Homo sapiens: one gene and its partners. The protein of the gene in region 2 interacts with the protein of the main gene of each other region in a biochemical or structural test. Each region holds a gene or a part of one and is shown on either strand. Other genes may lie near its edges.

Region 1 (3,747 bases), on a different chromosome or scaffold from region 2:
GAATTCTAAGTGGAAAAGTTATCCCTTTCACCAAAAATGTAGAAAACAAGGCAGAAAATACTTCCCGGTCATTTCCTTAATTTTTTAAAAATTGCATTACACACCTATAAATGTATTAGTATCAATCAAATCAAGTTTAAGAGGGACTTTGTGCTGCTTCCTGTTCTTGGGAATTAAGTCGGACCAGAAAGTGCTATGCATAAGTAAGATCCTTCAGAAAGAAACAAGGTCAGAATCCTAAGACATCACAAAAGGTAGACAAAGCTTTTTCCATCCCACACAAGCGCCAGAGACAGCAGCCTGTTACCAACTTAGGCATGGTCACATTTGCAATGCACCACTTCCTTCGCACGCCCCAGGAGCTCTATAAAATGAAAGTAACTTAAAAGGTGGGGGGGGCGTATAATCGTCTGATGCAACAGCAGTATGGCCCACACAGACTTCGGGCTCTGGGCAGTGACTGGGTTCTCTGTTTAGATTTAGAAAAAGCATGGGGCCGGGGCGCTGGCCTGAAAACTTACGATGGAGCTGTATGTATCGGGGTGGGGAGTGCGAATGAATGAATGAAAAAAAGGAGCGGACTAACTCCTATTCTCCTATCCCCACCTCCCACAATATCGATTATTTAAATGTTACAAGATTTTCTAGGCTCCTGAACACAGGGGCCCTTGTGGGGCCGTCTCTGGAAGCGCTGGGAGTCCAGGCGGTCCCCGGGGCTCTCTCCTGCCCCTTCTGCCGCGACAATGACTTTCTCCTAGAGACAGCCGCCTACACTTGCACTTGTTCCTCGTGGCCCCGGGGAAGGGCAAGTGGCGAGGAGGAAAGAGAGGAGGAAAGGAGCTTTTTGCCCCTGGTGAAACGCAGCTGCATCCCAATCGCAAATCCGGCTTGGTCCCTCGCCGTACCCGCCGTACCCGCCGGTCCTGGGGAAAAACCCCGAAGAACTTTCTGGAGGCGCCCCTAAGGCTCGCGCCAGGGCACAGACCTGGCCCGACCTTGACCCCCGTGCAGTCTGTGCTTGAGCCCCGGCGAGCTGAGCCCGCCCCAGCCGAGACCTCGACCCCGGCCCCGACCCCGCCCGGCCTGGGTCTTCGCTGGCCCCAGCGGGTCGGTACCTGCTGGAGCCCGCGCGGGGCTCGGTTGAGCGTTCTTGCGCGCCTTCTTCCCAGGCATCTCCGCCGGTGCCGCCGCCCACTCAGCTACAGAGCCCGGGAACCTCAGCCTCCAACTGGAGCACCTCGGACAGCTGCAGGACGCGAGCTGAACACGAACAGTCCTGCAGGCAGGGATGCTGGGATCGGGTGTCCGGACGCGCGGAGATGCCAACTACACACGGTGAGTGCCCGGGAAACTCTGAGATCCCCGCGCCAGAGACCACGCTTTTGTCCAGTGAGAACTTCCCTGGTGACGTAGGGAAACTAGACGCCCGGCCCGCCCCTGTCCCCGCCCCTGTCCCCGCCCCGCAGACGGCGTTATGGGAGCGGACGCGGGACGCGGGCGGGGAAGTACCCCGCTGAGCGCGACCTGCCCGGACACGCTCCCGACCCGCGGCGGCGCCGACCCGCGGCGGGGGGCGCAGAGCGCTCGGCCCCGAAATTACTTCCTTACAAAACGAGGTGGGAGGAGAAGGGGGTCGGCTTTGACCATCTGCAAACGCTGGACGTCGTCAGCGGCAGTGGTGGCGGGAGCTGGGAGTGGCGGGAGCTGGGAGTGGCGGGAGGGGAAGGGTTTAACCAGGAGGAACGTTGTGGGTGGGGAGAGACCAGAGGCCTTGGCAATTAGAGACTTGGGTAAACAAGCCCAGAAAAGAGATTGGAAAAGGAAACTTTTCGAACTTGAAGAGTATGGGCAGTAACAGGGAAGGGAAATGAGAAGAACCTTAATCACCGCAGAGGAGATGCCAGAGGCCCTGTGAGAAAGCTCCGGGTCCCAGGAAGTCACTGCAAACAGAAGCCCTGGTGCCAGCCAGAAAGAACATCGTGTTTGAGTTGGGAAGGGATTTGTGTGTGTCCTTCCAGATAGGTCGATATCGCCCATTGTGGATGTTTAGCAAAAACGAGTGGATCGTTATCATATGGAAAACGTTCAAATCTTTTGTGGGAGGGCTGAGCTACCTGGGAACGTGAAATTATTTGCATAATGTTTGGCGAGGCCATGAGTAATTCTACTATTATGAAGAGGAGTAATTAGGAGTGGTTAACGGTTACTGAGAGCCGCTTCATGCTAAGGACTTTGACATGCATTTTCTCATTCCGTCCTCAGAACAACCGTTGCTACTTTACGGGTGCAGAAACTGAGGTTTGTAGAAAATTGCCCAAGTTCACTTAGGCAGAGAGCACTGCCCTGATTCCGAACCAGGCAGGCCCACAGAGAGCAAGAGCTCTTACCCACTGTAGCCTTCCCAGCAATCAGTTTCTTAGAAAATGTGTGTTTTCGCCGAACGCGGTGGCTCACGCCTGTAATCCCAGCTCTTTGGGAGGCCGAGGCGGGTGGTTCGTTTGAGGCCAGGAGTTCGAGACCAGCCTTGCCAATATGGTGAAACCCCGTCTCTACTGAAATACAAAAGATTAGCCGGCCTTGGTGGTGCACGCCTGTCGTCCCAGTTGCTTGGGCGGCTGAGGCACGAGAATCGCTTGAACCTGGGAGGCGGAGGTTGCAGTGAGCCGAGATCGCGCCACTGCATTCCAGCCTGGGTGACGGAATAAGACTCTGTCTCAAAAAAGAAAAAGAAAAAAAAAGCGTGTTTTCATATTAGCTGTGCTGTTTAATGAAAAGATTGCAAATTCGTTGCATGGGCTCCCTAGAAGTGCTTAGTTTGGTTTACAGTATTGGCCTTCAAAATGTATTGTAAAAATTTGAATTGATTACCAACATTTTAAACATTGAGGGATTGCATGAAAAACCCAGATTCCAGCATCTCTTGGAAAACCAGAATCTCTGACAACGTGGGATCCATTTTCCAAAAGTGCAAACTAGGTTTGAAGTGTGGTCGAAGCCACACCCTTTAGAGGAACCTAGGGTGCTCCTGTTCACCACACTCCCCGCTGTTTGCTTTTCCCATTTACATTATCTGGCCTCAGTAGGCATTTGAGGTTGTTTATTTATCTTAAATCATTCAGTCAACACAAACCAGCAAGTATTTATTTATGGCTTGGTCCTGCTGAAGGTATGGACAACAATATAAGCATGGAACAAAACTGCTCTTGAGTTTAAACAACATAGTTTCGAGGCTGATGTTGGCTGTTTTTGAATGGGGTATATACAAACGAGTAAAAGTGGACAGAATTTAGGAATCATCACAAGACGCAGGAAGCACACTGGAGATGCTGCCTTGAAATCTATTATCCCCAAGTGGTAATTCAAAACCACTCCAGGCTCATTTTGACTTACCTAATACATAAGGAACACCGTTAACTTTTTGGTTGCATAAATTATTAAATTTCTGTCGTTCAAATACGCACCCTGAAATGCAGAGAATATACTCAACAACCACCAAAAAAAAAAAAAAAAAGTGAATCACAACATTGTTTACCTATAAAAGGTATGTTAATCCCATCCTCTAACATTTTCATTAGAAAAGAATTGGTCATGTGACTCACACTGGCTACAAACCTTAGGCAACTCTGTTTTTTAGGGAATTGCAAATTCAGCTTGCAAGGAGGAAAAGAGCGGAAAGAAGTCGGGCGAGGTGGGTTTTGGACATGGGTCAGATTCAGCTGGTTTATAGAGGACTTTTAAAGATTTAGG
Region 2 (3,747 bases):
ACAGGAGGGACAGGATTCCAGTACTGCAGACACACCCTCTGAGGCATCTCCAAGTAGGGATTGAGGCTGCTTGCCCACTTTGCCTGACTATTGTCTTTGGCCAGTGGTCCTAATACCAGGTGGGTTGTTGCCAGCTATAAACAAAAGGCAGTCTGGGAGAGGTGCCTGGTCTGCTAGCCAGCCTCTGCAGAAGGCTACCCCTACCAGAGAATTGCCAGCTGCCCAGTGGTGCATATGAAAGAGGTCTTAGACACAGCAACTCTGGGTAAGTTTATTAGATCTCCATGGGGTTGAAATTCCATCTTCCATCTCTTTGCTTAAGAATCATCAGAGCCTGTTGGACAACATACCACATGTCACTTCCTCTTGGTGAACAGAGGGGATGTGTGTGGAAGAGCCAGTTATATCAGAACCATTTCTGAGCACACATTCTCTCCCTAAGGCCAGGGAGTAAAGAACATTTGACTCAGGATCCTTTGAGCCTGGGTAGAAGGTACCCGCCCCCTTCCTCTCAGGTATTATCCTGTTCCAAGCTGCACCGACTGGCTACTGTGGTGGCATCGGGTAATTATCCTGGAGACTGCGGCTGGGAGATCCTTAAGGGTAGGAGTTATGGGCTATTCTACTCAGGGCTATGTTCTAAATTTAGCATCCCTACAGGAAAGGGGAAGGAAATTAGTCTTTATTGAGTACCTGTTAAGTACTAGGCACTGTGTTAGGTCCTCTACTTATGCAACCAGTGTTTCTTGAGCATCTACTGTGAAGCTAGCAGTGTACTAGGTGCTGGCCATAAGCCACGCATGGTACCTTCCTTCATGGAAACGGCATGCTGTTTCATATATTCTACAGTAACCTTCCAAGGAAGGTGAGTTTATTCCCAGTTTACACATGAAGGTCTTTGTGCCTAAGTGACTGACCCCAGGTGTCCCTCAGCCAGTTAAGTGTCTGAATGAGAATTTACACCAAGGTTGGCATAATTCTAAAGCCAACACTTTTCATCCTATCAAGTTGTCCAGGGAGTAATAAAGTGACCTAGACATGCTGGCCCAGAAAGCCAGAGATGCTGTTGGGCCAAGCAAACCATGCCTGTGAAGGTGCTCACTCTGGACTGATAACTGGCTTTGTTCAGGTAGCTATGGGAAGGATAGTTGGCAGTAGCAGGTTCCCAGAGGCGTGTTGGTAGCCTCAGATTCTGGCACTGGTAAAACTCAGACATGGCAGGTTTCAAGTGGGCATCAGGGTTTTGCCCAGAGTGAGCTGCTTATTAATTTTTTCTTTTTTTTTTTTTTTTTGAGACGGAGTCTCGCTCTTGTTGCCTAGGCTGGAGTGCAGTGGCGCGATCTCAGCTCACTGCAGCCTCTGCCTCCCGGGTTCAAGTGATTCTCCTGCCTCAGCCTCCCAAGTAGCTGGGATTACAGGCATGCGCCACCACACCTGGCTAATTTTGTATTTTTAGTAGAGATGGGGTTTCTCCATGTTGGTCAAGCTGGTTTCAAACTCCCAACCTCAGGTGATCCGCCTGCCTCAGCCTCCCAAAATGCTGGGATTACAGGCATGAACCACCGTGCCTGGCCCCGGCCAATTTTTTCATTGTTAAAACCCTCTCAGGCCCTGCCAATAGATGACAGTGGTGTGCGTGTGGGGAGAAGGTGGCCTGCCCCAGGTATCTCTACTTAGTGGTGGAGTGATGCTTCAAGGACTGAAAGTGTAGACCCTTAGCCAGATTACTGCCTGCCTGGAGTCACCTGATGAAATGCTGAACCTGTTCGGCTGTCTTGTCCATCTGTCTCTCCCGCCTGTAAAATGGAATAATGATAGCCAGCTGCCATAGCTTGACTCGAGTAAAGGATCTAGCACAAAAGCCCTTCTCCTGCCATAATTGTAGGGTGGAAACCCTTTAATGAATGGGCAGCTTCCCTCAGAGAACTGACTCTTCCCCCTAGAGTTTCTCCTTGAGAAACAAAGTCCCTGTGATACTTTCCTGGAATGTTGTATACATGACCTTCCCCGAAGGGACACAAGTGTTTCTGGTGCTTTCCAATGGGAATGTGGGAAGGGACCCAGGTGGGCCTTGCCACTTTGGGATTGCTGTCCCTGAAGAAATCCCTTAGCCTGATAGAAACGTAATTGTTGGGAGCAATGAACTGTGTTGGGGGAGAAAACATAACTTGGCCTTTCTTAAGCTGTATGGCTCAGTGGTCTGAGTTTCTGTAGATCTCTTATTGCCTAATGTGGCTTCTTCAGATGGATGTATGCTTAGTTGAAGCACCTCAGCTCCCTTTGCAGATAGTGGCAGTTCTGTGGTTTTCTTAGGGAAACCCCATTAGAAACCCCAAATGTGGAAATTTTTAGTAATCTCATTCGGGTCCCAAAATTAAGTAGAAGTGTCTCAGGGGCTCCCCCTTGAAACACCTACTTCTTCTGAGTGTACATTTGAGGTTGCTCTTAAAATTCTGTTACCATCACAGGGTTTTCCAGACTTCCTAGGAATAATTTCCCCAGTAGCCCCACAGAGCCCTTTAGCTTCTGTCGAAAATTACCCGGGTATTTTTTCAGGGGGCTCCAATGGAACCTGGAGGGTTTTCTTGACTTTTGTATGGGTGTCCCCAGATTTGTTTGGGCTGCATGAAACAGCAGTTGTTATCTCTGTCCCTTCCCCCAGCAGATATCTGTCCTGAGGCCAGTGGGCTTGAGCGTCCTCCTCTGTGTCCAGTCTCCCTGGTTTTGCCAGTGCCCTCAGCCTTCCATCATGGGGCTTTCTTGAAGCAACTGTGGTTTTGCCTGAGTTTAATGTGGATAGACATAGGGGTAATTCCCAGTGTACTGCTTTTCTACGGAAGTATAATCTCCTACTGCCTTAATTAAGCAGAGGCCCTGTCCCCACCCAACCTCCAACCTAATTCCACAGAGTCCTCCCTAAGGACTCCCTCTTTTTTCTTTGAAGGAGTCACTCTACTCCTGGATCCTCTTCTCTTCTGCCCCTCTATCCGACAGTCTGTCTTCCTTGTTCCCAGTTGGCAGACCTGAGTCAGGCAATCCCACTGGGTCTTTTTGTTTAGCCTGGGGAAGAGAAGACCCAGGAGAATATCACCAGCTTCAGATATCTGAAGGAAGAGGGACTGAGTCTTTTTTTATTGGTGTGGTACCTGGCAAAACTTGGATAAATGAAAAGAAGTTAACAGTTGGTAGAGCTTAAATTATGTGCAGAGAAGACATTTCTAACAGATTTACTCTGTCCTAGATTTAGGAGCTCCTCAGGGTGGAGGCCACATCTTGTCCATGCTTGTTTCCTCAGCACTGAGCAGAGGCCTTGGGCATAGCAGATACCTAATTGAAGAGAAACCCACTAAATTTCTGAAGAAACAGACCCTTGTCAAGCCAGAATAACAATAATGGGAGTGGCTATTTACCTAATAATTCATTCGTTGAGTCAAACAATGTTTATTGAGCTCCTACTGTGTACCATACTGGGAGTATGGCAGTAAACAAAAGTAAGCAAAACTAAGTTTCTGTCCTCATGGAGCTCACATTCCAATGAGGAGTGACAGGCAATAAATATATAATTACATGTTTATATCAGATGATTGTACATGCTATGAAGAAAATAAAGCAGGTTGGGGCATAGGGCATGTCTAGCAAGGGAGGGTGGGGCTGCAGTTTTAAAAGAGTGATCAAAGAAGGTGTAAGGGAGAAAAAAATGGCTTTCCTCTACCCTTCTAGGTCCTTTGGCTGGGCTGAGAATTAAAT
Region 3 (3,747 bases), on a different chromosome or scaffold from region 2:
ATATTTACTTATTGTCTGTCTCTTCCCACTAAAATGTGGGCTCCATGAAAGCAGGGAACTCTTATGTCTTGGTCCTTCCTGTATCCACAGTGCCCTATACACAGAAGGTACTCAATAATTAGCAGTTGTATAAGTGGAAGAACCTGAATTTGGGAAACAATAGTGACTATGTTGCATAGTTTCTTTTTTTATTTTTTATTTTTTTGTAACAGAGTCTCACTCATTCTGTCGCCCAGGCTAGAGTACAGTGGCGCGATCTCGGCTCACTGCAACCTCCGCCTCCTGGGTTCATGCAATTCTCCTGCCTCAGCCTCCCAAGTAGCTGGGACTACAGGCACACACCATCATGCCTGGCTAATTTTTGTATTTTTAGTGGAGATGGGGTTTCACCACATTGGCCAGGCAGGTCTCGAACTCCTGACCTCAAGTGATCCACCCGCCTCAGCCTCTCAAAATGCTGGGATTACAGGTGTGAGCCAGCATACCCGGCTGATGTTGCATAGTTTCTGATTCATTTAACACAGCACATAGTTATTGTACACCTACTATGAGACAAGCAAGTTGCCAGGGACTAGGGACACTGTGGGTTAGCTTTCTATTCCCGTGAAATCCTATCACAGGGACACTAGTGAGGACTACCAAGAAACGGAAGCCCCCTCCCCACCTCTCGTTATCTGCCTGTCTAAAAGGCTGACTTTTCAAAAACTCTAGAGTTATGATTGCCAAATCCAGCCAGCCCACATCTGGGGGTATATTTAATTATCCCCGGGTGTGGCTCTTTTCCATCCACAGCTCAGTCACTTGTACTCTGGCCTCTCACTATGCGAGCGGATGACTCCAGACAGAGACCATGTGGCAGGAAGGCTGCCTGGTTCTGCACATCTGGCCCCTTCCCGGGGGGTTCCTCCCCAACAGCTGTCCTCCTCGGGCTCCCTCGCCAAACAGAAGGCCAAGCTTTCAAGCTCTAAAAGTAATTCTGGCAGGGGTGCTGCGAGCTGGGAGGGAGGCCTGCGGGATGCGCCTCCAGGTTTAACCACTTAATCCCCAAAGTACCTGCCAAGAACCAGTTAGCATGTCTGGCTGGTGGGCCAGGCTGTCATTAATTCATTAAAGCAGGCTCCCGCTGGCCCATTATCTTCCTTGCCACTGACCACGTCGCCTTATGGGCCTGCGGAGTCCCCCTCTCTCCCCTTCCCCTGCTCCCAAGGCAGGATTCTACCCAGCCCTGGCCCCGACTCCCAGGCAGATTCCTCGGCTCCATTCTCTCTCCCTCCCTGCCCCCTCCCCAGGCACGCTTCTCCCTCCCTCCCTCCCACGCCTCCGCCAGCCAGCACTCACCATAAAGCGTCTTTTGTTCCCTCTCTCCTGTATCTTTGAGTATTGACTGGTTAAATCATACCCATCCTCCTCCAGGCCTCCCCAGCCTCAGAGGAGCCTCCCCTGGGGCTCTGGAAGAAAGGGAATTTCACTTGTACAGGAATTCACTGTGCACCAACCCGGTCTGCTTACTGCCCCTATCTCCTCTTCCCCCGCAAGTCATGGGGTGGGGGGCGCTGTGTGCCCTCAAAGACAGAAGCTGCAGTTCCACTGGGGATCACTTAGGTGGATGCTCTCTGCCTCGGCTTCCCCTTTGAATTAAAAGGAATGACACTGACCATTTCATGACATCCTCTGTTGAGTGAAGTTAAGAGACAGACACTGCACTGGACTTTTTTGAGACAAGAGTCTCACTTTGTCGCCTAGGCTGGAGTGCAATAGTGCGATCTCAGCTTACTGCAACCTCTGCCTCTGGGACTCAAGTGATCCTCCCACCTCAGCCTCCTGAGTACCTGAGACTACAGGTGCACACCACCATGCCCAGCTAATTTTTTTTTTTTTTTTTTGGTACAGACAAGGTTTCACCATGTTGCCCAGGCTGGTCTTGAACTCCTGGGCTCAAGTGATCCGCCCACCTTGGCCTCCCAAAGAACTGGGATTACAGGACTGAACCACTGGCCCGGCCTGCACTGGACACTTTAAATGAATGTTCTCTTATCATTCTCCCAATAACCCTGGAAGGATACAGCTCCAGTTTACAGATAAAGGTGCAGAGGTAATGGTTCTTTCTCAAGGTCACGCTGTCAGCAAATGGCTGGACACTTAAGAGTCTCTTAACCATTATTCTCTCCTGACCCTTCTGGCACTGACTTCCCGGGAGGGCAGGTAGGAGTGGTGTGGAATGGCCAGCAATAATAATGGTAAAATGTTGACTACCTTGGGAAAGAATGATAGTAAATGCACAATAATAATCATGATGGCTCACATGTATATCCACTGTTCTAGAGCTTTCCGTGTATGAATTCATTTAACCCCCTTAATAACGTGCCTATGCACTAAGTCTGGCTGGTGGGCCCCCATTTTTTGCCCCCATTTTACATATGGGAAAACTTAGTCTTGGGTTTTTGTTTCTGTTTGTTATTTTTTTAAAGGATGACTTCTGAGAAAAGTATTGCTGGTTCGCAGTAGAGACTCAAAACAAGTATGCTGGATATATGTATGTGTATATACACATATATGTTTTAAATTATTATTGAGATGGAGTCTCGCTCTGTCGCCCAGGCTGGAGTGCAGTGGTGTGATCTCAGCTCTTCTTGGCTGACTGTAACCTCCGCCTCCCAGGTTCAAGCGATTCTCCTGCCTCAGCCTCCCGAGTAGCTGGGATTACAGGTGTGCACCACCACGCTCAGCTAATTTTTGTATTTTTAGTAGAGATGGGGTTTCACCATGTTGGCCATGCTGGTCTCAAACTCCTGACCTCAGGTGATCCACCTGCCTTGGCCTCCCAAAGTGCTGGAATTACAGGCGTGAGCCAACCTGCCTGGCCTGTATGTTGAAAATATTGATTCTGCATATAGCGGAGCACACCCTTTAAACCTATGGGAATTGAAAGTGGTAGTTCCCACCCTATATGGCTGGCACAGGCCTCCCTCAAACACCTAAGGTACAGCTGTGAACATTCCCCTTTTTCTTTTAGGGTAGGGAAGGTGGAGAGCACCCCATATCCAGCATAGAACGCAACAGACTGTCTTCCTCCGGTGATTTTTCTTTCCCCTTTACTTAACTTACCAGAGCTGGGAAAAAATGAGTTTCCCCAAATTAAATCAAAAGCACAAGAAAGGCCGGAGCGGCTGGTATTCTGAGGTCAGATGTAGGCTGCAGGGAGAGAACTTGATCAGGGCCAGTGCAGGGAGCCCGAGCACTGAGAACCCGGCCTGGGAGCGCAGGAAGGCGGGTGGTGAGCAATTCTACGGGTGTCCCGAGGGTATGAGGGGCGGTGCTGCTGGGAAGCCGAGCGGGGCATCCTGAGGTCAGGGCGCCAGAGGCTGCAGAACCCTGGAGGGTGTGGCTGCAGGGGACGCCCGGGCGGGACAAGGCAGGTAGGAGAAGAACCCAGAGGTGTGGGAAGAGGGTGTCTCCGAGTCAGGGCGCAGCACGGAAGTAACTCTGGGGTAGAAGGCGAGGGCGGGGCGGGGGAAATAAACTCCACAGAGACAATAACCTGCTGCTGCCCCCCAACACCGACTCAAAACAGCGAAACTCCTGGCCGCCGCCCTCCCCTGCAGCGCAGGCCCCAGTTACCCAACTCCTCCCCTGCGCTCCGGCGCAGAGCGGCGCAATCTGCCCGCCCCGCCCGCAGCCTCCCCTTCCAGGCCCCGGGAGCATTCCCACCCCGACACTCACACACCGGCAAACAGGAACACACAGTCA

Evidence for each region.
Region 1: the proteins of BCL2L1 (region 2) and PMAIP1 interact in a biophysical measurement, tested with the Homo sapiens proteins (3 studies listed by BioGRID and IntAct, with this or other methods).
Region 3: the proteins of BCL2L1 (region 2) and HRK interact in a biophysical measurement, tested with the Homo sapiens proteins (3 studies listed by BioGRID and IntAct, with this or other methods).

Annotation. Positions count from the first base shown.
Region 1 is NC_000018.10:59,897,604-59,901,350, reverse strand, and holds the start of PMAIP1 (phorbol-12-myristate-13-acetate-induced protein 1), read right to left. Parts: upstream 1,356-3,747; 5' UTR 1,174-1,355; coding exon 1,116-1,173; coding exon of another isoform or gene 986-1,115; intron 924-985; coding exon of another isoform or gene 769-923; exon of another isoform or gene 1-768. UniProt on the Homo sapiens protein: Promotes activation of caspases and apoptosis. Promotes mitochondrial membrane changes and efflux of apoptogenic proteins from the mitochondria. Contributes to p53/TP53-dependent apoptosis after radiation exposure. Promotes proteasomal degradation of MCL1.
Region 2 is NC_000020.11:31,716,201-31,719,947, reverse strand, and holds part of BCL2L1 (bcl-2-like protein 1), read left to right. Parts: intron 1-3,103; exon of another isoform or gene 3,104-3,327; intron 3,328-3,747. UniProt on the Homo sapiens protein: Potent inhibitor of cell death. Inhibits activation of caspases. Appears to regulate cell death by blocking the voltage-dependent anion channel (VDAC) by binding to it and preventing the release of the caspase activator, CYC1, from the mitochondrial membrane.
Region 3 is NC_000012.12:116,875,353-116,879,099, forward strand, and holds part of HRK (activator of apoptosis harakiri), read right to left. Parts: intron 3,193-3,747; exon of another isoform or gene 3,106-3,192; intron 1,449-3,105; exon of another isoform or gene 1,339-1,448; intron 1-1,338. UniProt on the Homo sapiens protein: Promotes apoptosis.